2 separate regions of the Homo sapiens genome follow, and region 1 is linked to region 2. The links come from fine-mapping of genetic effects on gene expression. A gene starts in region 2. The other region holds a variant in brackets. All regions are shown on one strand. Distances are from middle to middle. Region 1 overlaps SPTB (spectrin beta, erythrocytic). Region 2 holds the start of SPTB (spectrin beta, erythrocytic).

Region 1 (15,355 bases), 90 kb before region 2:
GGAGAAACTGAGGCACAGGGAGGTTAAGAAGTCAGTCTGATCCTAGGGCTGCTTTTTCATGGACAGCCATGGTAGAGATGAGCAAAGGTAGTGATTTCCACATCTAATTCCAGCCACATTTGGACTTGTCCACTGGGCAAACTCACTACAGAGGGGTCCCTTGGTTCGCCATCTATAAGGAGTGGAAACGACCACTCCCCAGTGGTTCTGTCCATCCAAATGATGAGGATTAATGGCTCCCCTGGACCACTGTGATCATCTTGCCTATTCCTCCAGCCCTGTGCAGGACAGTGCTGGAGCCCTGGTGAAGGCAATGGAAAGCAAACATTAATAACTGCTGTCCTGGCACTGGACACTGAAGCTCTAACTAGATGTCCTCAGTGTCCTGGGCTGTCCCCAGATTCAGGTGACCCAGAAGAGGCACTGATTCTGACCAGGTGTACTAAGACTGACTACATCAGGAGCTCTGAAGGTTTAGCTACTATTTAGAAAAGTTGTTCGCTGCCACGTTCTGTACTGTCAGCAAGCTTTAGGACAGGGTCCACACCCTGGGTGAAGCCCATCCAGGCAAGCCTATCTGAGCAGAGCACCCACCCGCCGCCCAATCACTTTACTTACCGCATCGATGTTCTCTAGCCACCCTTCATGGGAAGCCAGCTCTGCCACAAACGCCTGGTGCTTTAGCCATTTATTGTGAAGGTTTCGTGCTTCATCATAGGAGACATCCTGAGATGTCAGCAGCTTGTCGTTGATCCAGAGAGTGAGCTGTGTGCATAAAGAGTGGGCTGACTATCCCTGAGTATATTTCTTTGGCAGAGCAGAACCTGCTGCCCATCCCTGGCTGCAGAAGGAGAAGGCCATGGGGAGGAAGTGCAAGCACAGAAGAGAACCCATCTGCAGTTCTGGATCCCTCTGTACCAGCACAGGCAACTTTACCCATGACAGGCCAGGGCTAAAATGTGGGCACAGGTGCATCTTCCCCACTGGAGTGTGTGTGGTGTAGACCAGGGATACTTTACGCTCCTCTCCATATTTTGAGGACCTAGGACAGGGCCTAGCATATTCTAGGAACCCAACGAGTGTTTACTGGATAGGTGGATAAATCCGTCCTTTGGCCGTAGGGTGAGAGATCCTTGATAAACACAGGAAAAAATGTTATTTGAGGAAGAAGCCAAGGACAGAGGTCAATGAAAACAAAGTTGTCTGGGCTGAGAGAAAAGGAGTATGACAAGAAAGAAGTCAGGGAAAACCCCATTCCATGTAGAAAGTACTGTCAATGGAGGGACCTGGGAAGGCGGATTAAAGACCTTCCTTGTACAGCTGGTCCCAGGTTGAGCAAGGACCTTCTGAGCTAGCAGTTTTCCAACTGGCAGGTTTGTTTAAAATGTTCTTTCTCTGTCTCACCCCGTAAAGTTCTGATTCATCTGGCCTGAGTGGGACCCAGGGGTCTGCTTTAACTAGGACCAGGACTGGCTCCATAATTTGCAGGGCCCAGTACAAAATGGAGTTGTTCAAAAGCATGAAGAATTTCAAGATGGCAAGAGTAGAGCATTAACCTGAGCCCAGGGCCCTTCTAAGCAAAGCACAGGGTGTGACACAGGTCACACATCCTCAAAGCTGGCCCAGACTGGGTCCTAGGTGATTCTAAAATAGACTGTCCCTAGACTACTCTTAAGAAACTCTGGCCTAGACTTGACAGGTTAAGGATGACTTTTCAGATTTGAAAAAAAAAAAACAGTGCAACTGAAGATTCCAGAGAATGACCCAATTAAGTACCCAGAGGTCCCCGCTCATGGAATCCCACAGCTCTTGAGCTAGAAAGGATCCCTGTGGACTTCCTGCCTTGAGGGAACTCTGCTTCTAGAAAGGAATCTCCAGGAAAGCAGCCACTCCTTGCTGGAGCCTCACCTCCTGGCAGTTCTGGAGGAAGTTCTGTAGCTCCAGGTTGTCTCTCAGTAGGACAGAGGCCTCCTGGGCCTTCTCGTTGTTCTTCCTGTGCCTGGAAAGGAAGCCAAAAGCACAGTCACAATAGTGCCGAGCTTGGGGTCCTCACCAAGCTTGGGGTCCTCACTACCCCCGTGTGGCTCTGGGGGCCTCGTGGCCCTGGGGCCCGGGAGTACCTGTCCTCAATCAGCTGCACCTTCTCCTTGATCTTGTCTGAGTATAGGTTTCCCTCAGCTACCAGCTTGTTTCCAGAGTCCACAGGACTCAAGACCTTATCCCGGTTGTTCTCCATAGACCCCAAGAAATCCTCAAACTTCCGGATCCCAGCCTCTGCAGCTTCCAGGGAGTCTGGGGGCTCCAAGTGAGCCAGAGTGTATTCCTGTTGGAACAAGTTTCCAGACAAGGCATGAAGACACACGGAGGAGGTGATGAGCACACCTCCCAAGTGGGAGCACCACGTGCAGCCACACAGGCCACGGTATGAATGAGCCCCCTAGAGTAGTACAGGGAGGAGGCACTACTCCCCAGGCCTTGCCCCCACCCCTACCCCAGGGGCACACAATAAACAGTGTGCCTAAAGCCACATGGAAGGCTAACCACCCAGGGCAAAATGCGCTTCTCTAGCCTCTGATAGACCCAAGAACAAGGCGTAGTTTGGGACACAAGGCTGGAAAAGGCCCCTAATGAGAAACAAAGATTTCCCCCATGAGTGAATACAGAGTACAAGACAAGAGTAATGTGGTCCCTGAGTCTTACAGCACATTTGTGGACTCACCACAAGAGCTACTGCCCTGAGAGACCCGCCTGTCCCAGCCCTGAATGCCTCTCTACCTGGTTGCTGAGGATGGCTTCAGCCTGCTTGGCATCTTTCTGGAACTCCTGGAAGCCAAGGCACTGAGCGAGGGTGTGGCTGCGGCTCTCCCACATCCTGCCCAGGGCATTCCAGCCAGTATCCAGGCCCTCCAGCCGCTGGCCCAGAAGCAGATACTCTGGGTCCGTCTGGCCTTGGATCACTTTCTCCCCAGACTCCTTAACACGCTGGTAGCTGTCTTGGTGCCCGTCAATCTCATCCTTGATACCTGCATGCTGCTGCAGGAGCTGCTCAGCCTCTGGGAGGGATTCGGGCATGTCCTCAGAGGCCACAGCCTTCTGGGTGATGGAGAGCCAGGCCTGGAAGTCATCCAGATCCTGCAGGAAGGCCTGCAGCTGGCTGACTTCCCCCAGCAAGTCCTCCTGGCCCTGCAGGGATTGCTGCAGGCCCTGCCACAGCTCCTCCAAGTGTTTTTGCCGCTGACCAATATCCTCCTTCTGCTCAGGGTGCGAGTCCATCAGCTGCTGGGACTCACGCTCCAGGGCATCCACACGGGCCTGGATGGCGGCCACGTCACGCTCCAGCCCTGACAACTTCCTCTGGATGGCGATGATACCTGCCAGGTCCCGCCCCAGGTCTTTTGTGGACTCCACTACCTTTGTCTTGTCCGTGATCCACTTGCTGGTCTCCTCGCAATCTACGCAGTAGTTGTGCACTCGGAGGGCTGAGTCCACAGCCTCCCGCCGCTCCGACACCAGGGTCTGAAATGCCTGCCACCTGCCGGATGGGGACACAGCCCGGAGGAGAGAGACACCTTCTCCCTTAGCTCTTCTTCCCATAGGAGACCCTGACCCCTTCCCACATTTCCCACAAGTCTCCCCCCACAGACTTTGTATGATAAAAAGAAAAAAAAAAATCTACCTAACGAAGTGTAGGTGAGCAAAATTCACTTCTCCAATTTTACTCAAGACATATATAACTGTCAATCAGATCTTTTGATCAGCAGGGGGCAATTAATTATGTGACTCCAACCATAAGTAAAGGAACATGAAAGCAAAGTCTATGCATGTAGTTGGAGTTCAGGCAAATATACAATTTCCCCAGAGTTTATGAAATATCAAAATAATTAAAAGGCTCACATTAACTTCAAGAATGCTTCAGGACATAGGGTCCCCAGCTGCCCTAGAGGAACCAAGTAAATGCCCAAGGCCACATGCAACGTCTCCTAGGGCCTGAAAGAGATCACCTTGGATCTAAGAGAAAAGATGCCCTGGTGAAAAAGAAGAGGAAGAAGAGGACAGGGAAGAAGAGAATGGGGAGGAATAAGTTGTGATGATAATTTAAGTGACTAGCATAATCTTAACCTTCGAGTGCAGTGTTGCTATGAAATACGGAAATGTGCTAAGGTCTGGCGGATGCCTGGGGGCCTGGGGTCAGTCTGCAGTACACGATAAGCCTCTTTCAAAGAGCTGCCCATCAGCCAGGCCAGACCACTAGGGACACTGCCCTTGGGCCTAGGTTCACTCATTCTGCATCACTGTAATATGCAGGCTGAATGCTCATTCTCTAATCGAACCCATCTTTCTCGAACACCCACAGGGGTATAAGCCATTTTATTGGCCTTTGGGAGAATATAGACATAACCAGACCATGCCCTGTGGGGTGTATGATTTAGAGAAATATTCAGACAAGCTCACAAATAACATAGCATAAAGTTTCATGTGCACAGCACCTAACAGGCAGAGAGGAGGATTAAGGCAGCTGGAAGGAGCAATGGGGTGACAGTTGCTCACGTGACCTCCACACAACCCATCACTGGACACAAAGCCCCAGTCAGTGAACACACCCCCAGTGCCTCCACTGGAGTGACCAATTAAAGGATGGGACCAAGTGTCTCATTCATCTTTGTACCCTGCCTCAGGGGATGGAGGCTGAGGGACTAGGAGATGGACTGGACAGAGAGCGCTGTTGTGCATTCCCAAGGTGTGACAACAGCAGCCAGTATGATTTGAAAGGTCTGCAGAGAGATATAAGAGACAGGCTGGGAGAGACCAGGGATACGAGAGAGGAGAGAGAGCCTGCAGATTTCTCGGCTCCCATCCTAGACCATGAAGACCCCGTGCTCTGGGAATTCCGTGCCTGTCTGGCACACAGATGGTGCTCTGAGGCTAGGAAATCAAGGGGTTTTCTCCAAGTTTGTTTGAAAGCCCTGGAATCGACAGGGAAGTGTTCCTGGGAGAGGGTCTGGCTGTGTCCCCAGGCAAGAGGCCCCATAGTGATTTTCCAGGCCTTTCCTGGAGTGGCCTCACTGTAGCCATTGGGTGGAGGCCACACCAAGATGCACTGGAGCTTGGGTCTAGTCTGCTTCCCAAACCTACACTTGCCCCCTCCACTGCACTGTCTTTGAGATGGAGGAGGTTGATAGAGCCACTCTAGTTATCACTGGTCAGGCAACATCAAGAGTCTAGGTTTGGTCCTGGGCCAGGTTTTTCTTCAACTGGAAAGCATACGGTGAAAGATGATCACACATTCATCAAGTGTTTGAATGACTCACACATAAGCTTGGCAGAAAAACCTTAGTTTTTTCCCAGTTCACTCATGTACTAAGCATTTATCAAGCAACTCTCAGTTGCCTTGTGGCAGACACTGACCTAGGCACTAGGGATATGACAAAGAACTATGCAGGCTGGGCTCAGTGGCTCACACCTGTAAATCACAGCAATTTGGGAGGCTGAGGCCGGAGGATCTCTTGAGCCCAGGAGTTCAAGACCAGCCTGAGAAACATAGTGAGACCTCATCTCTACAAAAAAAACAAAAAATTAGCTGGGTATAGTAGTGTGCATCTGTAGCATTAGCTACACAGGAGACTGAGATGGGAGAATCACTTGAGCCTGGGAGGCTGAGGCTGCAGTGAGCCAAAATTGTACCACTGCACTCCAGCCTGGGTAATGGAGTGAGATTCTGTCTCTATAAAAAATTAATTAATTAATTAATAAAGAGTAATGCAAAGTCCTTGCTTTCATTCAAGTGGATAGAGACATAAACAAGTCTATAATCCATCAAGTGGTGATAAGCGCAAAGAAAAAATAAAAGAAGGTAACAATATAGAGGCCAAGTGGGTCAGTGAGAGGAAGGATGTGCTGCTTTCCATGGGGCGGTCAGCGGGGGCCATGCCAGTAAGCTGACATTTGAGCTGAGACCTGAATAAAAAGAGTAAGCCAAGGGCATAGCTAGGAAAATAATACTCTAAACAGCAGGAACCCCAAAAATGTATTAGGTGTGCAAAGCCCTTGGGCAATATAAATAGATACAGGTCTTCATTTGTTTACATAGTCTAGCAGGAAAGTCCTTGGGGACAAAAATAATTAGAATGTAAGATAGGATATGAAGCTCAAAACCAGTACAAAGGAGGAAAAGATTGCTTTTCATCTGGAAAACTGGAAAGCAAGCGACTTGGACTGGCTCATGCAGAGACAGGATTTGGAATATGTAGAGGGAGGGAGAATGCACCCTGAGGGAAAGAACCGCAGAGGCATGAGGCGACACTGGGGGTGGAGGTATAGAATGAGCATTGTTCTGAAAAATAATTGAAGAGCTATACACGGAAGAGGAACCAGGGTAAGTGTGATATCTCTCAAGGGCAGAGCCAGAATCAATATGTACGCATTTCAAGGAGGCAGATTTCCACTCAATGGAAGAGCAAACTTTTTAACCAAAAAGAATTGCCCAAAAATGAGATAGGCTGCCGGGTGAGGGAGTGAGTTCCCCATCACTGGCTAGACTGGGTGACTTCTCAGGTTCCTTTCAACTCTCAAATTTAATTTCATGCCTCGGGTTTTTTTCTCACTTAAGGATGGCAGGTACCTTGATATTTTTCTCTTGGGGATGGGGCCTGTTTTAGGGGTCTGTAAAGATCAACATTCTCAGACTATAGTTTATTGTTGAGCTGATGAGTTCTTCCTCTCAGGAAGTTTCTCTGGTTTAGACCTGCTCTAGTTTCCTCAATTATGCAGCAATTGCAATAATCTCTACCACCTCCTGCCCACCAACACACACAAACTCATTACCTACAAGGCGAAAGAAGAGGGAAGAGGTATTCTCTTCCTTTGTAAAACATCAGATTGACAAAGGAATCTCCTAAACCGCACTCTGCAGCTTGGGCTGCTAAGACAATCATCCCATTCTAGTGGCTCTAAAGAATTCTGGTCATCGCTGCCTCCCCTTAGCCCCCCAGTGAACTCTCCACTGTGCCGATCCCTTTCTTTACAATGGAGTCTTCCCTAGGCCCACCTCCCAGATTGCCTCAGGCAGAGCAACGCTCAGGCACAGGTGTGGGGAAGGGGCTGGGGTAATGGGGAGGTGGTGAACATGTGGCATTGCATGTGCAGGGCCCACGGTAAAGACAGGGAATGCAGGCATTTGCGGTGTCCTCAAAGATCCTCCAGGAACTCATGGGCAATTTCACCCCACACTGAAAGCACCCCCTCTCTAAAGGCTCCTTGGGGCCTATTTTTTGTTCTGGCCACAAAGCTTGCTTAAGGCTCCCTGCTAATTCTCCTCTTCCTTCAAGCCAGCCTCATTATCGATACTGCATTTGGCAGAGGCAGGAGCATTATTTTATGGACAGTACTTAAGAGCTCTCAGAAAGCAATTTTCTCTGCCCAAGAATGTCCAGGGAAATATAGCATGAGAAGCATATGGCCTGATTCTAAGTTTGGGCACACTTGGGATGTGCCCTCCATCACACATACACACCCACCCTCCCCAGGCACAGCATTCGAGCCTCCCAGGACTCGTCTCTCTCCCTCCCTGGGCTGTTCACCACCTCAATCATTCCTCCTTGCTGCTATAGTTCCAGTACTACTGGGAAGGGGACTGTGGCTGAGACAGACAGGAATGTCGGTGGGGGCGCGGTGGCTTATGCCTGTAATCCCAGCACTTTGGGAGGCCGAGGTGGGCAGATCGCTTGAGGCCAGGAATGAGACCAGCCTGGCCAACGTGGTGAAACCACATCTCTACTAAAAATACAAAAACTAGCCAGGCATTGTATCGCACGCCTGTAATCCCAGCTACTTGGGAGGCTGAGGAACAAGAATAGCTTGAACCCAGGAGGTGGAAGTTGCAGTGAGCCGAGATCGCACCACTGCACTCCAGCCTGGGTAAAAGAGTGAGGTTCTGTGTCAAAAAAAAAAAAAAAAAAAAAAAAAAGACAGGAATGTTGAGGGTATAGAAGTGTTGGTGCATACTAGGTGGACTAAATTTTGGGCCCGGCCCCCAGCAGTGTGTCAGATGTTGAGAGACAATGCCCCCGCCCCATGCCCTACCCACACCCCACCTGGTGTTCAGATGGTCCTGGTACTGCTTCACCTCCCTGCTGCGTGGGTGGCCACTCTCTACCAAGCTGTTGGCAGCGAGGTTCACACCATCAATCTGAGTCATCAAGGTCTTCATCTCCTGGTCCAGGATGTCGAACCTGATATGGGCAAAGGAAAATATGAGGATGGGTGAGGCGGCAGCAGACATTTCCTTGCCAGTGGCACCCCCAGTCTCCAGAACATGTAGCTCTTGCTTTCTCCTTCCACTGCCTAAACCATTTGCCCAGGTGAGGCAGGAGGAAGAAAACAGATATGCTGGCCCTCCTTTCTGGTTCATGGGTTTGATTTCATGAGTTAGCATTGCCTGGAACAGGCCGGGAGAGAGCCAGTTACTTCCTACACGGGCTTCTGGCTCAAGAGAGACATATGAAGGGGAGGGAGGGCTGAAGAGAGGTTACTGTGTATTTGTGTGGGGGATGTCAATTGTCACAAGGGCCACCTTCCAGGCCTCTGCTTTTCCGGCTGTTGCTTTTGGACTCTGAGTCCAATGCCTTGACATCTTAACCCAAAAGATACCCTTTCCAGCCAGGTGCTCCATTCCTGGGTAAGATAAGGAAAAGCTGCTGGGGCGGTGGTCGGGGGGAATTTGTGGTTCTGAAGGCCGATCCTTCTAGGGTAAGAGCCCAGGACTCTCCAGCATCAGTGCAGCACCACCTTGGCACTGTTCCAGAGAGCGGCCTCTCCTTCTCCTGACTGCCTGAATTCTGTGCTTCAGCTGCTGAGATGCTGCACAGACTGGGGCATGCCTCATCATCTGGGGTGCTGACAAAATCAGAACACCAGGGGTGAGAGTGGCCTTGCAGACAGGGGGTTTGCAAATTCTCTCTGTGGCCCCTCAGAGTCTCCTGGCTTAAGGACTGCCACAGAAAGCTAGAGCTGGCAGGGTCCTGGCCTCTCAACCTCCTTCTCCAGAGTAGCTCCATTTTTCCTCTGTGTGACCTGGGGGTTCCATACACAATTCATCTGAGCAAAGACTGCTATTGCTGAAAAGTAATTGAATAACTGGACTAGATAAATTCCCTTTGTTTGAGGAACACAAGGCCCCAAAGGGTGAAGTACCCCAGGCCACAGAGCCAGAATAGAACTTATGACTCCTAATGCCAGGACTTTGCAACAAAGGACATCCCAGGGCCTCTCAAAGAGACCTTTGCTGATCCAGAGACTATTACCAAACTAGGTGGGAGATGGTGCCCAGGCCTGGGTACAGGGACGTGAGGAAAAGATGAGTTAACTCTGACCTGTGCTGCACGACCTCCAGGTCCTCCAGGGTGTCTGGCATTTCCATCTCGGCCAGCCACTTCTCCTTCTCTCCCATCCACAGCTCACAGGCGTCTGTCTCCCCGAACACCGTGTACAGGTCCAGGGCTTCCTGCAGCCTCTGCTGACGCAGGTCCGCCTGGGCCACCACCTGTTGGTAGAGCTCCCGCAGGGCCTGCAGCCGATGGGTCACATCTGGGGAATCCCGAAACTCTTCGGGGAATCCCTGGGCCTGCTGCTCCAGGTGCTCCATCACCCCACGGCTCTCCTCCAGCTCCTCCAGGAAGTCCTTGTGCTTTTTCCCCAGGGCCCGCGTGGCCCCTTCGTCCTGCCCCACATCTTCACCAGAGAGCAGCCGGTGGGCGTCTTGCAGCCAAGCCTTCAGGTCATCCGCATCGCCCTGGAACTGGAAAAAGTTCTCAGCATCCTGGAGGTTCTTCTTGCAGAAGGCAGCCAGGTCCTTCAGCTGGTCCCACTGTGCCGACACCTCCTTTATGCGGGCCTCGATCTGCGGGTGCCCAAACTGCTTGCGCGCAACCATGCCATGAGCCTCCTGGAAGATCTGCTCCAGGTGAGCATCCAGCCCACGGAGCTCATCCTCAAAGGCCTTGTGCTTGCGCTGTAAGATGAGCACACTGGTCAGGTCTTTGCCATAGTCCAGGGAAGAATAGATCTGCTCCTTCTCCTTGATCCAGCTCTCAGCCTCATCCATCTCCCAGAAGAACTTCCAGAGTCGTTTGGACTGCTCCAGTTGGGCCTTCCGCCCAGCTGCCATGTTGCTCAGCTCCTCAAAGCACTGCTCCAAGTGGCTGATGCGGTCCTGGATGACCTGGGGGTCACAAGGCTGGTACCCTGGAAGAAATAGGGGGAAGGAGGACAAAGTGGGGGATGGGCTTCATTTATGGGCACGCTTCAGATAAGCTGCTAGGTTGGAACTACACAACCCTGAAGCTGCCATGTCACTGGGGCTTTGGGGTTGGATGCAGGGGGGTCCCAGTTGCTCAGAGGGTGGACAGATTCTTTATAATTATTTCCCACTGAACTTCAGGGTTAAGGAAGATAAAAAGTGGGGTTAGTTCTTAATAGAAATGTACAACATAAAATTATTTTTAAATTAATTAAAAAAATTTCAAGGTCATTCTTGAAAGATGCAGTGAGGTCTCTTATTTAAAACAAGAATCTGGAAACCTAAATTGTCTCAGCCATAACTTGAACTAGCAAGGAGAATGAAGGACAGAGGGTGCCTCCTTGGTGATTATAGGTTACCGAAGCAGTTGCCTGCTCTCTAGAGAATTTGGCTGGTCCCTCAAGCTTCTTTCTTGGACCATTACTTGATGAAAGTAACAGAACTTTAAAGTTGGTTCCAGGAGATTTATCCAAGTTGGGTTGTTAGGCCAGAGGTGAGGCTCTGGCATTGGAAGCCTCAAAAGGGGAGACAGACTTGGTCTCACCTTTCCCCTCGGTGAACTTCAGGGTGGCTGCGGTGATGGCCTTCACTTTGTCCCCTTGGATGGCGATGTCAGCTTCCATCAACTTGTGCTTCTGTAGCAGGTCTTCAACCTCCAACAAGTGCTTCCCAAACTCGGCAGACAAGAGGTGAGCCTGGCAAAGAGAACAGCAGAAAGGAAATGAGGAGAAGTGAAGAGACCTACACATTAGGAGAAGAGACCCCTGCAAAGGGCATGTCTCTAGTAATCTGAGCAAGGGTGAGCCAAATGCAGCCAGAAAAGGGCTGCTGCTGAGGATGGAAGAAGCTCCAGAGGGAGAGTGCCTACTGGGGGTGCCCATCAGCATCATCCATAGAACATCTTACAGATGCTCAAGCCCCACACTCATCTACTGCATCGGTCTCAGGGTTGGGGCCTGGCCATGTGTATTTTCACAAAGCTCCAGGGGCAGTCTGATGTGTGTCCTCAGCTGAGACCCACTGCGGCAGAGAGAGAGGAGAGGTTGCCCTCATGCTGGGAGGTCTGGAT[T/A]CTAACCAGAGTCAAATTGTAATTACTAAGAGCTTGATTCTCCAGGTTCCTGATTAATGTCTGTCTCTTCAAGGCCCTGAAGGTTGGCACCGGTGCTGCCACAAACCCAAGATTTCTCGGTCACCAGGGTACCATGGACCTGGGCTGGTATCACCTGCTGGAGCAGAGTGGACCAAGAGGCAGAGAGGCAGGTGCAGCTAGACACTTTGCTGCCTCAGTTTCTCTATTTTGACTCAGAGATATGACTGGCTGGGAGGTGTCTAAGGAAGCCTATGCTAACTGCAGGGCCACTGAGACCCAAGGTGAGCACTGCAGGGCATGGCGGGGGCGGCCCCCAGGGCCCACCTTGATCTCATCCATCCAGTCGATGCTGTGCAGCATGTCCTGGAAGAGCTTCTGCAGTGCCAGGGTGGTCTCGAGCCTCTGGCGCCGGGACTGCAGCAGCTCCTGCAGGTAGCTCCATAGGCGCAGTATATTGTCCTTGCGGGCCGTGATGCGCTTCTGGTCATGGTAGTTCTCTTTCTCCAGCTCCTGAGCCAGGTCCTCCAGGGCTCTCACCCGCTCCTCGTAGGCAGCCGTGTCGGTCTCGATGGCCTCATGCTTCTTCTTGGCGGCCTCCACAGCTGCCAGGTCATACCCAAAGTTATCCTGCCCCACCGGGAGAAAAACAGGCAGCTCAGTCAGACACCCAGGGGCTCATCCCCAAACTCAGGGACAGGGCAGCTCCCTTCAGAACCAGTGCTAGATGGGAAAGCACATTCCCAAGAAGCAGCTAGTTCTGCCTTACTTTTGCAGCCTGTCTTATCAGACCCAAGTTCCAAAAATTAATGTCTCACAAGAGACTCTAAGAGAAGTTCATGATTTTACTCCCCGTGCCACCCGCGTGGGAGATGCAGCCTGCGTGTTACTAATGGAGCCCCTTGGCAGCCTGCTGGCACTCCCCACATGCCTCGAGTGGACCTGTTGGATTTGGGGCAGGAAGGGGCTGCTTCTCACTCGGAAACCCATGCACCAGCAAACAGATGGTTTATTCACATGCTATCTGGGGTGCGCATACACTCTCCAGTGCTCTCAGAATACTTGTTGCCCCCTTTCTGGACAGAATCTAATTTGATTCCAAGCTTTAAGTGAGAGGGAACAGATGCTCTGATGAAGAATCAGCCCTGGGGTCAATTCTTAGCTAGAATTATGTCACAGCACCAGAGACCAGAGTCCAAAAGGCATGCCTGACACAGACAAGGTGCAGTCTGTGATTTTACCATATCCCCCAAGAACCACAATTTAACATCAACTGAAACCCCAGCTGTAGTTGACACTACAGGCCCACATAAGACAACTTCAGCGGCCAGTTCTAGACTCCAAGGCTCTTTCCTAAAAATGAGATTTAATAAATCCTGGAGAGCTCCTCCCCAGATGCAAATCTTGATCCACTGGATCACGGGGGAGCTGTGCTGCAAGGCACGAGGAGAGGCTGTGAGAAGCCAGCTTGGACTCCAGCCCAGCCAAGAGCTGGGGGCTCTGAAGAATGTCCCCTCTCCTGTCACCCAAAGCATGTCCCTCATTACCTGGGCCACGAGGCGCTGGTTTTCACTGAGCCAGGTCTCTCTCATTGCGGCCTTCCGGTCAAAGCGCCGGGCCAGTTGCTCTAGCTTCTCCTGCCGAATGAGCTCATTTCTCAGGGCCAGCTCCCGCCGATACTCAGCTTCCTCCAGGCTTTCCCAGGCCTGCACAAAGGATGGAATGAGAATTCTTGGGGCACAGGAGAAATGCCTCACTTTGGGGGCTCCACCCCTTTCACCCAACACTGAGTGATTTCTGGAATCAAGGTACAGCCTGATGCTCTTGGGTGACGTGGTAGCAGATTAAAGATCAATAAAAGCCTTTGGCTTTCATGTCTGGGCCCATCAAAGATTCAGAGGGCACTGCTCATGAGTCTCACTTCCCTCTTCCCCTAAACCTGCCTCAGACTCTTGGCCCAAAATAATGTTTTTCACCTCTCTGGATGCTCAGTAAGTTCTTATTGACTAATGGCTACCTCCGTTCAATATGAACTGCCAGGTGGTGGTAAGCCTCCAAGCCTCTGAAATGTCATAGGCATTTCCCTTTGGTTATAAGTAGTTAATATTCCATCTTCAAAGACAAACTCAAGGTTCTACAGAGGATAGGCTACAAAACTGGCTCCAAAAAAATGGACTCGGAGGCTGGGTGTGATGGCTCACACGTGTAATCTCAGCACTTTGGGAGGCCAAGGTGGGAGGATTGTTTGAGCCCAGTACAAAACCAGCCTAGGCAACATTGCCAGACTCTGTCTCTATAAAAAATGTAACATTTAGCCAGGTGTGGTGGTGCATGCCTGTAGTCCCAGCTACTGAGACTGAGGTGGGAGGATCACTTGAGCCCAGGAGGACGAGGCTGCAGTGAGCTGTGATTGTGCCAATGCACTACCACCTGGGTGACAGAGTGAGACCCTGTCTCCAAAAAAAAAAAAAAAAAAAAAAAAAAAAAAAAAAAGGACTCAGGGATGCAGGGCATCTGAACAGGGGGATTGAAGGAGGGTGGGGGAGTAGAGTCTGACCCCTCAGAACCAGGTTCGATAACTCCCCCAAATAGTCAACATGTGGATTAATAACATCAAAGAAAGTGGCTTGGTTTAATCTGGTCCAATGACCATTCACTGTGTCCTTATCGGGAATTCAATCAATCTACTGTCAATGCATAACGGAAAATGCTGTGGTACCCTGTTGATGTCAGACACTAGTTTCCCATCGTGGGGTGTGTACACTTTCTGATTGTTGGCTCTCATCCGGGACTGGATGGTAAAAAGTAGAACTTCCAGATTCCCCTTCTCTTGAAACCTGTCAAGAAAACAGAAGTAGGAAGACTGATGTTAAGATCTCATGGCCAAATTTTTTTGCTAAAGTCAACACGGAACTGTGGCATCTTGAAGCGTAGATAGCAAAGCATATTTCCCTTAAAAACACAGAAAAACTAAAGAGAATCTGTAGGTCTGCTTACCTGTTAAAACATCTATCCTTTTCACCAACTGAGATCTATTAGGGGTTTGGGTCTTTACAATATAAACCAGAGAAAACACAATGGCCACCACAGCATTTATCATTTGCCTCTACATGGGAAGCTGAGGTATTCTGGTAATTCCTGTAAATATCAAGTTGTACGGATCAATACAAAAAAAATTTTAAAAAACCTTCTCTGTGCTGCAAGTGATGAGGGCTTCTTACTAGCTCTCTGGTCAGTTCCTTATTAAGTGAGTCAATAAAACCCCAGAAGCAGCATATTCCGTGGGAGAGCATCCTGCACTGAAAACAGCTTTCACCCAGGTCCTAATGAGCCAGATCTCCTGACAAGTCCTACAGGCCAGATGCTTCCCAGAAGGCAGGAAAGGCTGGGCTCTGAGAGGCTTGTAGGTGTAGGAGACAAGAATTGTCAGCAGGATCGGTGTCTAGCATATGGGGTACAGGCTCCAGGTATCAGGTACTTCCACATTTCTGCATGTACCTAAGTGTCCACCCATTTCTGCATCCTTGACCTGGCAGTCAAGGATCAGCTATATGCAAGGTCCCCACCCTGAGCCCAGCCTAATGGATCTCAGTGCTCACAGGCACTTAAGAGAACTGTGACCGTGAAGCACTGTCTACACAGCCAAGAGATAACACCTCTGTGTGCAGTGACTGGTAGACTCATAGAGGATGCTAACTGTATTGGATTTAGGGCTTCAGAAATGGGTTACTGTCAGACTAGAAACCAGATACTTGTTTATAGTATATCCTAGACTCAGCATTTCACCTTTCCCCATTTGAAAGTCATGAATGCAGAGTGTGGGAGATGGGGGGAAGAGCAGAGCAGAAGGTACCATCAATGAGCTAGAAGCCTATTTCAGAGGATCTGGACAAGCTAATGGCAGATAAGCTGGAATGCCCCGTGTGTATGTGTGTATGTGTGCATGTTTGTGTGTGCATGTGCACATGCATGGT
Region 2 (15,355 bases):
CCTTCATATTGCTTTATTTTTCTTTTTAGCACTTGAAATTACAATATATATTTTTGTCTGTTGCTTGTCATTTAGTTCCTCTCTCCCCCAACTACAATGTGCACTCTACGACTTCAGACATTTTTGCCACATTCACTGTTACATTCCCTGGGCCTACAGCATGTCTGGCAAATTAAATGAGAACTCAGTAAATATTTGTTGAAGACTGACATACAAATCAAGGCCCTCAAGATCACTGGACAAAAAGAGGCTGCTGAAGTCCAAAATGAAGCATAAGCACAATAATGCCCAGTAAATTTGGGGTAAAGGAATGAAAAACCCAAAACATCAATTAACGGGCAGATGAACCCTTCATTTATCTATGGCATGCTACTGAGAATCCATTAATTCATGCTTTGGAACAGCATCTGTGCATACTCTGGAGGGCCATTCTTGAGGTTCTGTGGCTATGGTAAAGGGTAATACCATTAACAAGTGTCTTCTCTCCAGAACCAATGAACTTATGTGGAATATTCTGCTGAAGAAAAAAAGCAACCGCGGTCTCAACCAGAAGGCCCAGAATATTCAATTACTCCACTGAGAAGACCTGGAAACAGCCCCAGCCTCAGAACTAGGCAACTGGGTCAAAGTCAGGTTTTGGAATAAACTACTAGAGGGACATTGAGTATATAAATGTACATTTCTAATCCTGTTTTGTAACTGGAAACCAGGAATAATCAGATCTTCCCTTCACATGCTCATCATAAGATAAAATAAGATGATGTGTAGACAAAGGCATGCTGAAAATTGAGTGGACTATAGTTATCTGTGATCATCATCTTGTACTGGCTGGGATCTAATTCACTTTCTCTTCACTGCCACTGGTGAGCTTTGTCAACAAAGATTTCATCACACCCCTTTATGACTTAAAAACTTCCAGTGGCTCAAACTTCTTCACAGGCTGAACCCCAACCACCTTTCTGGTCACACTTCTGCCATGTGGAACTACACTTCATCCCCTAACCTAATCATGCTTTATTGTCTGTGCTGGGCAATTTCCTAAAGCCCCACTCGCAGGCCCCCTCATCCTCCCTTCTTCCATTATAGAAATCCTAGGCACTTTCAAAGGTCTTCTCATTCCCCAACCTGAATGAGATGTTTCCTCCTGTACACCCTCTCTCTCAGGCATCCTGTTGAATCACTGCTTGTTTGCAAGGCCATTTTCGCACCAGATCAGTGATTCTCCATCTGATCTCTTTGTGTGTCTTCAGCACATAACAGTGTAAGACACGTGGTAGACACCCAATGTCTGCTCTTTTTGAATACACCTCAATTCTCTCTCGGGCCTTTCTACCTCTAACTCTCTATGACTTATGACTCGAAGTCAGTATTATGAAAGGCCTTTTCTTGCTTTTCCACCCTTCTGGAAATATACTGGAAGATGAAGCTAATTGACCACTCCTAGGGTTCTTCTAGAAACAGGCTGGGACTCAAAAGAGGGACAGAATAAGGTTACAGACTTCTTTCTGGTCCACATAATTTATGCCTTTAAAGTATGCTTTGTTTTATTTGAATTGCTATACATTCTCAAGTGAGACACGCCCATATTTAAGTCTGGTACAAATGGAAAATATTTTCAAAGTATTCATTTTCGGAATTATTCAAGTTTCTTCTCCTTTTCACAATGGTGGAAACTCCTAAATTGACTATAATTCGAAGCAATTATTGTTCTTTAGCTATCAAGGTGCCGTTAGTCTCTTCATAAATATCCTGGATGATCTGAGCCTGGTTCAATGCAAAGCCTATTTTTTTTTCAGCCCTGTGCCTTTTCACTTGCTAAATTTATAACATTCAAATGAAAGAAAGGAAGCCCACTTTTGCCCCCACTGCTCACATGATATATGCTGAGTTTTAATTGCCCTTGTAATTCTACCCTCAGCCAGGTCTGCACAGGTATGATGTGGAAATAAAACATTATGGCAAAGCCTGAGAAGGGCTTGCTGAGGTAGGAAGAAGAGGGCTTTGTAATATTTCCTGCAACCAGGAAAAGGAAAGAGAAAAATGAAAGGTGGTCTGGGAATTTGATAAGCTAGCCAGACAATTCATTAAGGAAGCATTTTCTGTCTATGACCACCTCTAAGACTACGTGAGCTATAAAGGCTAGGGATCCCCTGATGGTTTGATATTCAGCTGAGGCTGGCTGAAAATGGAAGAATGTGGATCACTTGGCTGTGAATTAAGAAATACACGCAGCAACAGAGGGAAACACACTATGGCATTTTCTAAATATTTACCAAGGGGAGTTGGCAATCCGTGAGCAGAGCCAGATCTGACAGTTAATTCTCCTGACTGCCTCCTACGCTCTTCCTCAATCACTATCTCCATCTCCAAAACAGGTGACCTTCCCCTAATGGGGTGAAGAAGGAAGCATCTCTGTGATAAACCCAGCAAATGCCACATGATGATTCTGGCACACAGACCACTGCATCTACTCTTCTTCCTCAGATTTCTTATCTAAAACAGAGGAGTAACCTACGATCTGTCTGTTAAAATCAACTGAGTCAATACAAGCTGCTTCAAAGATAAAATTCTTCTTTCCACAGTCATTTTTGGCTTGTGATATCCATATGGTTTCAGAACCCAGTATCCATGAACTTCCTTGCCAGTCCTCATTATATAATCAAATTTCTCATCAGCCCACATAGCACAGTTATTTTCACTCTTGATCTTCCCAAGTTCATTGATAAATGTTAATCTGTAGGTCTCAGGTTATTTTTTTAAATTCTATAATTTTAAAATTCCATAACAAAGAAACATATTTTAAATCACTTTTTAATTAATTCATGAATTAGAGATGGCACCTCATTCTGTTGTCCAGGCTGGAGTACAGTGGCACAATCATAGTTCAGCCTCTCTAACTCCCTGGCTCAAGCAATCCTCCTCCCTTAGCCTCCGAAGTAACTGGGATTATAGGCATAAGCCACTATACCTGGCTTTTTTATATCAATTTTTTGTTTGTTTGTTTGAGACACAATCTCACTTTATTGTCCAGGCTGGAGTGCAGTGGCGCGATGTCGGTTCACTGCAACCTCTACCGCCCAGGTTCGAGCAATTTTCCTGTCTCAGCCTCCCGAGTAGCTGGGATTACAGGTGCCCACCACCACACCTGGCTAATTTTTGTATTTTTAGTAGAGATAGGTTTGGCCAGGCTGGTCTCGAACTCCTGAGACCAGCCTGACCAGCATGGTGAAACCCCATCTCTACTTTAAATCTCCCACTGGTCATGTTTCCTACCTTTTCAGGTCTTGAGCAGACAGTAAAATTTTGTGTTTGATTTTGAAATTAAAGTGCTGCTCTTCAAGAACAATTTGGTGATTGGGTTTAGGTTAAAACACGTATCTGACGGTCTCAACAGTTCTCTAAAGTCCTTCCCCATGCCCCCCAAAAATGGACATAATTACTTAAGATTTCTTGTCTCTAGATCGTAATGTGTATAACTATTGTTTTAAAATGTATACATGTGTACACCTTACAAGCAATGGGGGAGATTATAGAACAGTTTAGAGTTTAAAGCCTGAGACTGCCTTCTCTCCTGCTTATCCTCAGTACCTTTTCTTTAAGATTGCACTAAAATGAAAGGACTAGATATTAAAAACACATCCTCTCATAATCTCCTCCAAAGGAAATAAAATCTCAGTAGTTTGGTTAGGCAGAACTTCAGGAAGTAAACCATATTGGCCTTGAGAGTGAGACAGGAAAGAAATGAACTCGAGTAATAAGAAGTGTGGGTGCCATAGCTACACATCAATGATCAGGTACATTCAGTTAGGTCTTGCCTTTAAGCCAGTAAGTATGCACATGGAAGGCTGGGTTCAGTGACCTCCAGAATCCCTTCCCTCTCCAATAGTGTTTGCCTCATGAATTTTTTATAGCCATCCTCTGTCCTATCACACTGTCCCTATGTATCATCAAGCCCTCCTGGCCACTTCCAGGACTGAAAGGAAAATCTGTTCTTTAAAAAAAAAAAAAAAAATCCATGCTTTGACTCCTGCCAAAATTATAGTTCTGTCCTTGAAACAATGACCTGAAAATAATGGGTAAGGCTAAGAACCTCTGAGCAAATAAATGCCCAATATTATCTTCAGATAATATTTTTTAAGCTCCTCTGATATAAGCAGAACTATTACCTGAGGTCCTGGGAATGAAGATTATGAAGCTAGAAGACAAACAGTCAAATCTTCCCAACTTGTACTTTATATTCCCTGCTGAGTGTCTAACCTTAAAAAGAAGGTAGAACCAAACAAACTGAGTTTGAATCCTGGACCCATCTCTCATTAGCTGGGTAATATGAGGCAAGTTATTTAATCTTCCTGAACCTGTTTCCTTACTTGTAAAATGTTGATATGAGCTACCTTATAGAGTTACCATGACAATTAAATTGGATAATATAGAGAAAACGCTGAGCATTCATTTGTTGGTTTCCTCATTCATTCAACAAAGGTTAACTGAGGTTCCACTACCATCCAGGTACTGGGTACAACAACATAAAAGACAGAATAAAAGCTATTATTATTTACCAAAAACAGTTTGTTTCCAGAGCTGCAGCAGACCTGTCAAATTTTGACTTTAGTTCAAAACTGTCATTCACACCTAGCTTGCCTAAAATACTCATTTTTATTTTGCCAAATGTGATCCCAGGTAGGAGTCTTGCTCCTGTCATACCTTCACCCCCAAAACTAGTCATCTAGCAGGCGTTCTGCTATAGGACACCTTCAGAACACTTGGAAGAAGCATTGATCAGAGCCAAAGGTGGTATCCCAACTCTCTTCTGGGCAAGCCGCTCAGGAGAACTTGATACGCCTGTGCTACAAGGCCCATCCTGGATGCCTGGGAGTCCTTGGGTGCTTACAATTCCATGAGTGGACTCTGAGTCTTCCCAGAACTCAAGATCAATAGGACTGGCTCATCCCCATCATTGCCACTGGGGCACTGATAAAGCTAAGAGCAACAGCTAAGGGGTCTGAAAGCCACATTTTCATGAGCGTTTATGTCTTTCAATGGTGCTTTACTCTAGAGTTTTTGATAAAATTCTTTATAAATGACCCACCTCTGGAGTTAGTGGGTTTCAAGGCTGGTGGGCTCTTCTTCAATGTAAGTTTAACATTCCCTTTCCTGGCTAGCCTGCAAGCCTCCAGGCAAGCACAGGCCTAGCTGTGTCAGGTGCTGGACATTCAGCATACATTAACAATCATTTTGCACTTAGAAAAAAAAAGGTGTTTTCAATTGCATTTTGGAACCTGGGACTCAGAGCAAAAGAATAAAAGCTGAATCCTAAAATAAGAAATGACCTGCCTTGGGTTATAGTGGGGGAAGGGGTGGGCGAAGAGGGAATTCTAGAATAAAATTCAGAGCCATCTGTGAAGCTAAGGATAGGACAGTGGACAGTTGAGCTGTGCCTAAAAATCTTTGATTTGCAGACTCCTCTCATTAGGGAGCCGCCTGAATCTCTTCCCTTAGAAACTAAAATACGGATCGTGACTACCTCCAGGCAGGGGTTTTGCATGACTGCCTCCTACCTGGAGGTGACAGCCTAGTCTCTCCCCACAGAAATTCTCAGTACAAAAAGGCTGTCACTATATCCCCCCACCCCACCCCCCAATCTGATGCATCTAAAATTTAGATGTACAAAAAACAGTGGCTTCTTTTCATTTTCCTTACTCCTGGCTGGCGCCTCTAATTGCTCACTGAAAACAGTGGTTTGGATATTAATAGGCTGTAACTCAAGGCCCTACCTGAAGCTCGTTGTCAGGGAAACAGCACTCCAGCCCCGCAGCTGCTTCCCCAGCCTGGGAAGTACGGATGAGTTGGTGGGAGTTGGGGATTGTTTTACAGCTTCTGTTATTTCTCCCACTTTCTGCTATTTCTCAAGACCAAGTTAGAGGAAGAGGGGAAACTGGAGAGGAGGGTGAGGGTAGAGTAGCCCGGAGAAGCTTAGAGGAAGAGAGGAACTCTTTGGGAGAGGAAGACTAGGGGTCCTTGAAGTATGGCTTGGGGCACTAGGATCTTTCCTCCCTCGGTCTACACGGGGTCACTCTCTGGGTGGCTCCCAGCACCCGGAGGCCCGGCCCCCTCTGCTGCCCTCACCTGTCCCTCCTGCCTGGGCGCTGGGTGGCCCGAGGAGAGCGCAGCCAAGTTCCCCAGAAGAGGGATATGAGCGGCCACAAGGCTGAGAAGCCGGACAAAAAAAGGCAGAGAGCAGCGCTGCGGTCGGACGGGCTAGAGGCGCAATCCCCTTCGCTCCCAGGCCGGGGTCCTGGAGAAGGCGGACGAGAACACGCACCCCCGTCACCCTCTCCCTGCGCCCCGGGGTGACGGACTCTCCGGGATCCCGCTCTCCAAAGCTAGCACCAAGTGCCTCGGACGCCCGCGCGCGTTCCCGCGTCCCGGGATGATCTTTGCCGCAGCTGCCGGGCTTCCCGGGCCCCGCACCCCTCCCACCCCACGCCCGACAACCGGGGCTGGACTCCCACCCGGTCCTCTGGGCCCTGCGCGTCAGGCGCCCCCTGGGCCCAGCGCTCCTTTGAGCTGGCGCCGCGCGTCCCAGCCTTGCGCACCCGCACCCAGCTCCCTTGGCCGCCGGGCCCTCCTGGGACTCACCTGCCCTGGGACTGAAGCGGGGGCCACCCCGAGCCCGGGGGTGGCGGCGGCGGCGGCGCAGGGGGAGGAGGGCAGCGCGGGGCTCCTGGCACAGCGGCCGCCGGGCGCCTGGTGCTGCCGAGCCGCGGACCCGCCCAGAGATATAAATAACATTATCTGAGGAGGGACATTCCTGCCGGGGGACATCGCTGCTGCCGGGACCAGATAGTCCCGCGGCGGGGGCGGGGAGGCGGGGCCGCAGCCTCCCGCAGCGCCAAGCCCAGCCCCCGCCTTCCCCACCCACTCACGCACCTGCCAATCAGCCTCCGCGCCTGGGGGCACCTGCCGGGCCTCAGCCCGGCTCCTGGAACCCGCCTCTGCCTCCCCGCCCGCCGCTGAGCCTGGGGCGCCTCCATCGTCGTTCATTGCCCCTAACCCCGCGCCACCCCGAGCCCCCTGAGGCGGGAAGGGGGTTGGACTCTAGCTCGGGCCTAATTCGTGCGCCCGGAGAGGCAAGCCTGGTGGCGAAAATGAGCCCTCCAGCCTTTCCCGCCCTGCATCCCCACTGCACACAGTTCAGTTTTTAAAATATATGAAAAGACATTTAGGCCATAGGGTGGGCGCGGCGGGTACCCGGGAGGTGAACCCCCGCCGTGGCGGGTTTGGGAGGGACAGATTGTTCCCGGGGGCTGGTGCATTAGAAAGCGCGCTCCCGGGCGGGCTTCTCTCGGCTGGCGGTGGGAGGGCAGGGGGCGGGCACTGGGCCCGAGGGCCCCACCCCCAGCCCGAGCTCAGTGTCGCTGTTTCTGCCCGAAAACCTAGTGTAATCAGGACGAACCAGGCAAAGCTGGCGGCGCGCAGCCTGCAGTCCCAAGGAGCTCGCACATTGTAGGGACTGTAATCAACAGGCAGGCTGCCACACCTGCCCACTGGCACCTCCTGGCCGGCCCGGGTCTCCGGGCGAGTGGGGGTGCCTCACTACAAGCCTGGATGAGGCGCGGCGCAGCAGGCCAGAGGAAATACTAGAACCGATGGTGCCAAAAAGGCATCTCCGAGTTGCCCCCGGAGAGAAACTCAATAGAACACCGGCAGCTTGCAAGGCAGTACATTTTCTTGACTTTCTAACGATCAAGGTCATTGTTCAGTAAGGTTTACGTGTACGCCTTGAGGTAGCTTTCATCTCTTTTCTCCACCTGCGGTGCCTGGGATGATTTCTCACCAGCTATCAACGCAGGTAATCTCAGGTATTATGGAAATGGCCGTGGAGATTAAAAGCGCATAGATGCAGAAGAAGTTTTAACTTTTACTGATGCTGCCTGGTGTTCTTAACAAGGGAACAGTCTTACTCCTGAGTTATTTGCTTGGGATTATAATTGTGCTGTTTTCCAGAATTCACCCAGGAAAGGGGTGTTTGCCAGATGTTCGAGTTTAGTTTATATATTGAACATATGCAAAGATACTTCACTTCCTGCTGCAGTCCCACTTCTTGAGGGTGGGTATTTAGACACTGAGATGTGCTGAGTGGGACAAACGCCCCAGGTATTACAGAGCCACAGAATTCTTCACTCCACCCTCCTCTTGGCTGGATCCTTATTACAGCTCAATTTTCCAAGAGACACTAGTAATATGGGAAAGAGGATACAAAAACATTCATGGTCATCGATAGATTCGCAGTGATCCCCTCCTCCCCTTTGTTGACAACATTTAAGAATGCATTTTTCTATTACTGAGTTAAAAAGAGAAAGTTCTGTTTTGTGAAAAAAAATGTTTAAAAGTCAAATTCTGGCAAGGAAAGCTCAAGAAAAACAGGCCAACTTCAAAAGCTGAGACTATTATATATCTCAAGAAGAAATCCTTCATCTATTTTTGTTAGAAAAAAATGGAGGGAAATTATGTATTTATGGTTTTTTAAAAGCTTGTATGAATAAACTTATTAGATAAATTCATGGTTCTCTAGAATGGTGGTTCTGCAGCTACGTAATTATATACTATGCAAGCCAGATAATTCCTTAGCTATAGGTCTGTGGCACTGAACTGAATAGTTGCATACATATTTTTCTTTGTAGCCTTAAAATTTATAATTTTCAACCATAAGAAAAAATTAATATGATAAAACTCCAAATCAGCAGACAGATTACCCCAACATTTTACAAACCAGCTCAGCTGCTTTAGTTATCTCCACTTTAGCTGAAAGCTAAATAATTCAATACAACCTCATTTGCTACAGAGCATGTTATCCTGACAGCATCCCCAAATGCTTTACAGCTAATAGAGTTACAGTGAAATGATAAATCAGAACTGAGGAAGAGAGGAAATTTAGGCTTGCAGTGAGGAAAGGGCATTGTCAAATAATAGGGAAAGGGGAACAGATCTCTGTGGCCAGGAATGAGAAATTGGGAGAATAAAAGAAGGGAGAAAGGTTGGGCATGGTGACTCACACCTGTAATCCCAGTACTTTGGGAGGCCGAGGCAGGCGGATCACTTGAGGTCAGGAGTTCAAGACAAGCCTGGCCAACATGGCAAAACCCTATCTCTACTAAAAACACAAAAATTAGCTGGGTGTGGTGGTGCGCACCTGTAATCCCAGCTACTTGGGAAGCTGAGGCAGGAGAATCACTTGAACCTGGGAGGCATAGGCTGCAGTGAGCCAAGATCACGCCACTGCACTCCCACCTGGGTGACAAAGCAAGACTCTGTTTCAAAAAAAAAAAAAAAAAAAGAAGGGAGAAGGAAACACATACATATGTTCGTTATCAAGGTCATCATTGTGGGCAATAGGGATCACGTCTGGAGGGACCTCCTCAGAAGAGTATAGAATACCTCTTGGAATTGTCTATGTGAAGGATAGGAGATTAACCCTCATCCTGGTTGGACAAAGGACTGCCCCCACTGGTCTCCCACCCATGTTGAAAACCTACACTTCCGAGCTACCCAGCAAGCTCCACATAGGCAGTCTGCAGATTTGGAAGAGTTCTGGGGCCAGAAGAGAAGGTGTGCATTTGAGAATAGATGTTGACAGCCAGAGAGTGGGGGGTAAACCTTCACAGAACTGTCTACTCAGGTCTAGCTGAAACCAACAGGTGAGGCCAAGAAGATATAAGTTGAGACTTATGTTAGAATCATCTAACATAAGAGGGAACTTTCACTTTCCATTTCTGTAGTCTTTGAGTTTTTCACAATAAGCTTGTATTGTTTAATAATAAGTAGAGATGATAAATAAATTAAAAAGTAAAGATTGGATGGAGATGGTGGATTGAATACACGCATTTAGCTTCTCTTCTACCCCAAATTTCATTAGAAGATATGTCTGAAACAGGCATCTAAAAGCACAGGAAAATAAGGAAAAGGGGATCAGTGTTCCAACAATGTTCAAGAAATCCAGAGATACAGAAAAGATGCAAGATCTGATTCACAGAGAAACAAAATCAGAGGAAACCAAAACAGATTCAGGAGGAGCAATAGTTTAGGGAAGTTGCAAGCAATAGTTAAAGGATACAAGAGGAGGAGGGGCCCTGAGACAGAATAATTCACTTAGGAGCCTCCTCTGTCCTGCTCACATTAAATATCAGGTGTTTGCCTGCAGGACTTAAAAAAAAAGTTAATGGGGATCCTGGGACCCAAGGGGCAGAGCTCAGGGATCTAGTGACCCCAAGAAATGACAGAAACCATTCACTCTCTTGGGATAGCATGTCCTGACCCTTCTTCACAGCCCCTGAAGATAGGCTATGATAAGCAGAAAGAGGAGACAAGCCCATTCCCACATTAAGGGATGATAGGACAACCACCAAATATCTTATGGGGAGAGGGGAACCAATACCATGAAAGAGAAGCACCAAACCCAACTAATAGAAGGAAATAATATCAGAGGAAACTAAGTTAATAAAAGGAACAAGATAAATGTTAAATAATTTAATTTTAATCAGCAAGTCTTGAAAGGATATTGCATCCACAACAAATAATCAGTGAGAAACCTTAGAAATTTAAAAAGTCATTTCTGATATTGAAAATTCATTAGTTGAGAAGCAGAACAGACCTACTTGAAGGGCAAATTAGTGGAAACAGAAGCCAAAGAAATTTTCCCCAAACACCGGGCAAAAGACAAAGGAGATGGAAAGTATGTGAAAATGGTTGAAAGCCATGTAGGCAAAATCCCCCAAGGTCCAGTATTTGCTTAATGGAAGTTACAAAAGGAAAGAAAAGAGAGTAGAAGAAGGTAATAATGGGAAAGTAGAATAGAAATTCTCAGAGTTGAAGAAAAGCATAAATTTTCAGATTATAAAAACCAACTGAGTTGCCAGCCAGATGATTTTTAAATATAGTTCACAGTTTTATGAACAGTTTTAAAGTTTATGATTTTATTTATAAAACCCAAGACATTGAATAAAAATAAGTCATAAACCAAAAACTATAATAAGCTACACCAACTTGCTTGGCCTTGAATTAAATTGATCCTAAAAATATTTTGAGCTGGATGCGATGGCTCATGCCTGTAATCCCAGCACTTTGGGAGGCTGAGGTGGGAGGATCACCTGAGCCTAGGAGTTCGAAGCAGCAGTGAGCTATGATCACGCCACTGTACTCCAGCTTGGGTGACAGAGCAAGACCCTATCTAAAACAAAAATAAAAACAAAAACAAAAAACTGAATCACATAACCAAAGTTATTTGTGTGAAATAAATGAACCACTTGAATTCAGAAATGAATATATATGTAGGAAAGCTACGGAAAAACGTAAATACCAAACCAAACAAACCTGAAGTTCCACTCAACTCAAACTCAAATCCCCGCCAACAACAATGGAGGTATCAAGAACTCATGATAATGTTCAGAAATCATCAGAATACTGCCCATAGCTCAAAAATCATTATTTCCCTTCTTTACCCTTTTGCAAAGACATGCATTTCATAAAATTAAGGTGAAATTTCCATTTCATTTTTGGAAACATCTAGAGGCATCACATTCTCCACAACTTTCAAAGACAAAGCAGCAGCAGGACCAATTGGAAAAGCCTGCCATTTACAATATGGAGGAATCAAGGATTAGGGACCAAACTTGCCCTTCAGATGCCTCAAACAGAATGGTTGTGGAAGGAACTTGAAAGCCTGCAGCAAGTTTGCAAATACCAGATGAACCATCTTCTGAAGGGGCAGATGACACCAATTTCAAATTTCCCTCCACCAATAACAGGAAAAAGCAAAACAAGATTTGTATCCTGTCATCTGCTAGTCCATGGAAGCATTAACCAGGCTTGGAAATTAATGAGCATCTTTTCTTTTCTTTTTTTTTTTTTTGAGGTGGAGTCTTGCTCTGTTGCCCAGGCTGGAATGCAGTGGCTCACTGCAACCTCCACCTCCTGGGTTCAAGTGATTTTCCCACCTCAGCCTCCTGAGTAGCTGGGATTACAGGCATGCGCCACCATGCCCAGCTAATTTTTGTATTTTTAGTAGAGACGGGGTTTCACCATGTTGGTCAGGCTAGTCTCGAACTCCTGACCTCGTGATCCACCTGCCTTGGCCTCTCAAAGTGCTAGGATTACAGGTGTGAGCCACCATGCCTGGCTGCATCTTTTCTTATATTGCAGTTCCTGATCTTTCCTTGCCACACAGGATTAGGTTTTTTGTCACCTCACATGAGCTTGAGTAGATGTAATGGCAGACTTACACTGGGGTATCTGATGAACTGGGACCTGTAGGTGCTAATTCACCTTGTTCCCAAGGCTGTATTAATTTGCTAGGGCTCCCATGACAAAGTACCATATGCTGGGTGACTCAAACACAAAAATTAATTTTCTTACAGTACTAGGGTCTAGAAGTCCAAGATCAAGGTTTCGGCAGGGTTGATTTCTTCTGAAGCCTCTCTCCTTGGCTTGTAGAGGGCTATCTTTTCCCTCTGTCTTCACATAGTCTCCACTTTGTGTGCACCTATGTCCTACTCTCTTTTTTTTTTTTATGGACATGAGTTATATTTGGTTAGGGCCCATCCATATGACCTCAGTTTTACTTTCACTACCTCTGTAAAGCCTTATCTCCAAATACAGTCACTTTCTGAGGCATTGAGATCTAAGACTTCAACATGTGAATTTAGGGGGATACAATTAAGTCCATCACACAGCCTCATCTTTTCTCACAATGAATTGCTTCTGGAGCCTCTTACCTGTTCATCCGTTCTCCAGTTTCCCTCTCCTTCAATTCTGCTTCCACATAGTAGCCAAAGTACACTTTCTAAAAAGGAAGGTTGGTCTTGTCACTCTGCTTCTTTAAATCAGCCAGTGGCTCCCCATTGCTTTCAGGATATAGTTTTAAGATTCCTGGCACTTAGCATAGTATCTGACACAAAAGATATACTTAATAAAGGCCTAATGAGCAAATGAGTAAATAAATGAATGAACACATTATGGAAATTAAAGGAGGTTGCAATCTTGGAGATCAACCAAAGAACAGGTAATTCAAAAAGTCATTTCTATTTGGCTTAAAAATGCATATTTGTGATTTTTTTCAGGAGATTAACTTTCCTATCTATGTTCGAATAAGGTTATTTAAATGAATTCACATTCCCTGAAACATAGCTGGCAATATTTGTGCCTGAATTTCACCAGGTCCTCAGCTACCCTGATGCATCCATACCTAACTTATTGTCAATGGGTGAGAAATGGAGTGAATCGAGTAGGTTTTATGCTCACAGTTACCACTGAGCTCATCTATGGAGGCAGGGGTCTGCCATCTTCCAACGTCTTTATAACAAGGGATAGCAAACACAATAATGATGATTCGGTTAGCTTTTGTCTCTGTCTGCTCCACCCTCTCAGTGTCATTTTCAGTCCTCATCCTTGGGCAATGGCCCTGCTCCAACTCCCATACTCCAATATGCCAAAGCCTTGAGTACACAGGATTAAGAACATAGGAAGATGAATCCAAACGCATTATAAGGAGTGAGTTAATGTTGTTTTGATATTAACACTCTACCTTGAGTACTCCAGACAGTGGGTAGTCTGCAAGTAGACAACTGAGAGTAACTAACCATGAAAACTTTGTTCTCTTCCTTTATTAATATTTATCAAGCCAGAAACTCAAATCAAGGGTAGAAAATATAATTTTAAAAAATCAAATTTGTTAATATGGAATGACAGCTGGAGTTCTAACAGTTTAACCAATAAAACAATTTTGTGTTTATATGATAATTACTGCCAGCATAAATGGTCTTGTTAATTGCTTTTATTTGTTAGTGAGCAGTTTCCAAATTCACAAATATTTGTTCTTAATATTAACCAAGACCTTTGGGAAATTTTCAATAAAGTTTGGAAAGACATTGCAATAAAAGACTCCATTACTTCTGCAAATTCATCTCATTTTCTTTTCTATTGGATATTTCTACAGCTGCTCAATTTCTGTTTGGATATTTCTTCAATGATTTAAGGTCTGGTCTACAAGAAACTATGATTCAATTCAAACATATGTTTTATAGAATTCATACAGAATATAACTGGGTCTTCTCAGAAATATCATTTTCCTCATTTTTTTGGTATGAAAAATTCTATTTTTAAAAGTGCATTTATCATTTTCTCTCTTCCAAATGCCTTATGTCATTTTTATTCAATTTCATGAAGTAAATTGCTATCATTATCCTTACTGCTATATTAAGAAATTAAGAAAGAGTTTAAGTAGTTTTACAAAGATCACATAGAAATCCAAATCTCTGCTTATTAAAGCATCATTTATTCAAGGAGCAGTATCTCATGATTTTTAAATTAACAAATCCCATGATATGTAATGTAGATGATTCATACTATAACCTAATATTTTAAGTCATTAATTAAGTCAAGAATTTAGCCCCACATTATGCTAAGCATGTAGAGTAACAACTCTGTGCTGCTTGTTCTATTCCATCTCCATCTTAGTAATCAAAATGCACTTACGCACCCAGCTCTTGACCTTCCATAGCAGAAACTGAACCAAAGGAAAGCTGTAGACCCTTCTTTTGGGAGGAGTTCCAAACTGTGAGTGGGCATTTGTTTTCCATCACTGACCCCAACTGCTGCCTAACTCTATTTCTCCACCCTTACCCTTCTCCTCAAATAAATACTGCCAGGCATAAACAGGTATATGTTTATGCCTGTTTATGGCATAAACAGCCCCATATAACACCAGCCCCATATATTTCAAATACTCAGCATATCCCTATCCTGCCTTCATTCCAAAGAATGTACTGGAATCTGCTAACTTATTTCATAACTAAAAACAAATCTTTTGTTTGTTTGTTTGTTTTTGAGACAGAGTTTTGCTCTTGTCATCCAGGCTGGAGTGCAATGGTGAGATCTTGGCTCACTGCAACCTCCGCCTCCCAGATTCAAGTGATTCTCCTGCTTCAGCCTCCCAAGTAGCTGGGATTACAGGTGCCTGCCACCACGCCAGGCTAATTTTGTTGTATTTTTAGTAGAGTCGGGGTTTCACCATGTTGGCCAAGCTGGTCTCGAACTCCTGACCTCAGGTAATCCACCTGCCTAGGCCTCCCAAAGTGCTGGGATTACAGGTGTGAGCCACCACGTCCAGCCTTAAAAGCAAATCTTAAAATGCAATGACCCCGGGAGGAGTTAGCTTTTAAGGTAGGATCTTTTGGCTATTGGCATAAGAAAAAAAAGTCAGTTCCACTTAGTGACATTTTAAGAGCCAAGAATTTTTTTTTTAAGATAGTAGCAGGGTAAACCAGAAAGATCACTAGATGTAAAGGCAAAATACCTGGATTCT

The links. PIP is the estimated chance that this variant, and not a neighbour inherited with it, causes the effect. A credible set is the group of variants that fine-mapping cannot tell apart.
Region 1: its variant is the best candidate, but not a certain one, in a credible set for the expression of SPTB in whole blood (INTERVAL, PIP 0.86).

Annotation. Positions count from the first base shown.
Region 1 is chr14:64,783,629-64,798,983 of GRCh38, forward strand. SPTB (spectrin beta, erythrocytic) reads right to left here. Exons shown (of 36, transcript NM_001355436.2): 10 at 14,101-14,218; 11 at 12,929-13,087; 12 at 11,709-12,011; 13 at 10,839-10,989; 14 at 9,369-10,239; 15 at 8,091-8,228; 16 at 2,776-3,532; 17 at 2,121-2,323; 18 at 1,909-1,999; 19 at 619-765. It overlaps MIR7855 (microRNA 7855), which reads right to left and starts at 2,058; the gene lies at 1,998-2,058. The variant T/A (reference allele first, on the strand shown) is at 11,364.
Region 2 is chr14:64,873,156-64,888,510 of GRCh38, forward strand. It overlaps SPTB (spectrin beta, erythrocytic), which reads right to left and starts at 6,752. Exons shown (of 36, transcript NM_001355436.2): 1 at 6,637-6,752. It overlaps LOC105370534 (a long non-coding RNA gene), which reads right to left. Exons shown (of 3, transcript XR_943942.3): 2 at 12,768-12,835; 3 at 7,726-8,233. RefSeq lists silencers at 6,863-7,032, 7,083-7,222, 7,293-7,372.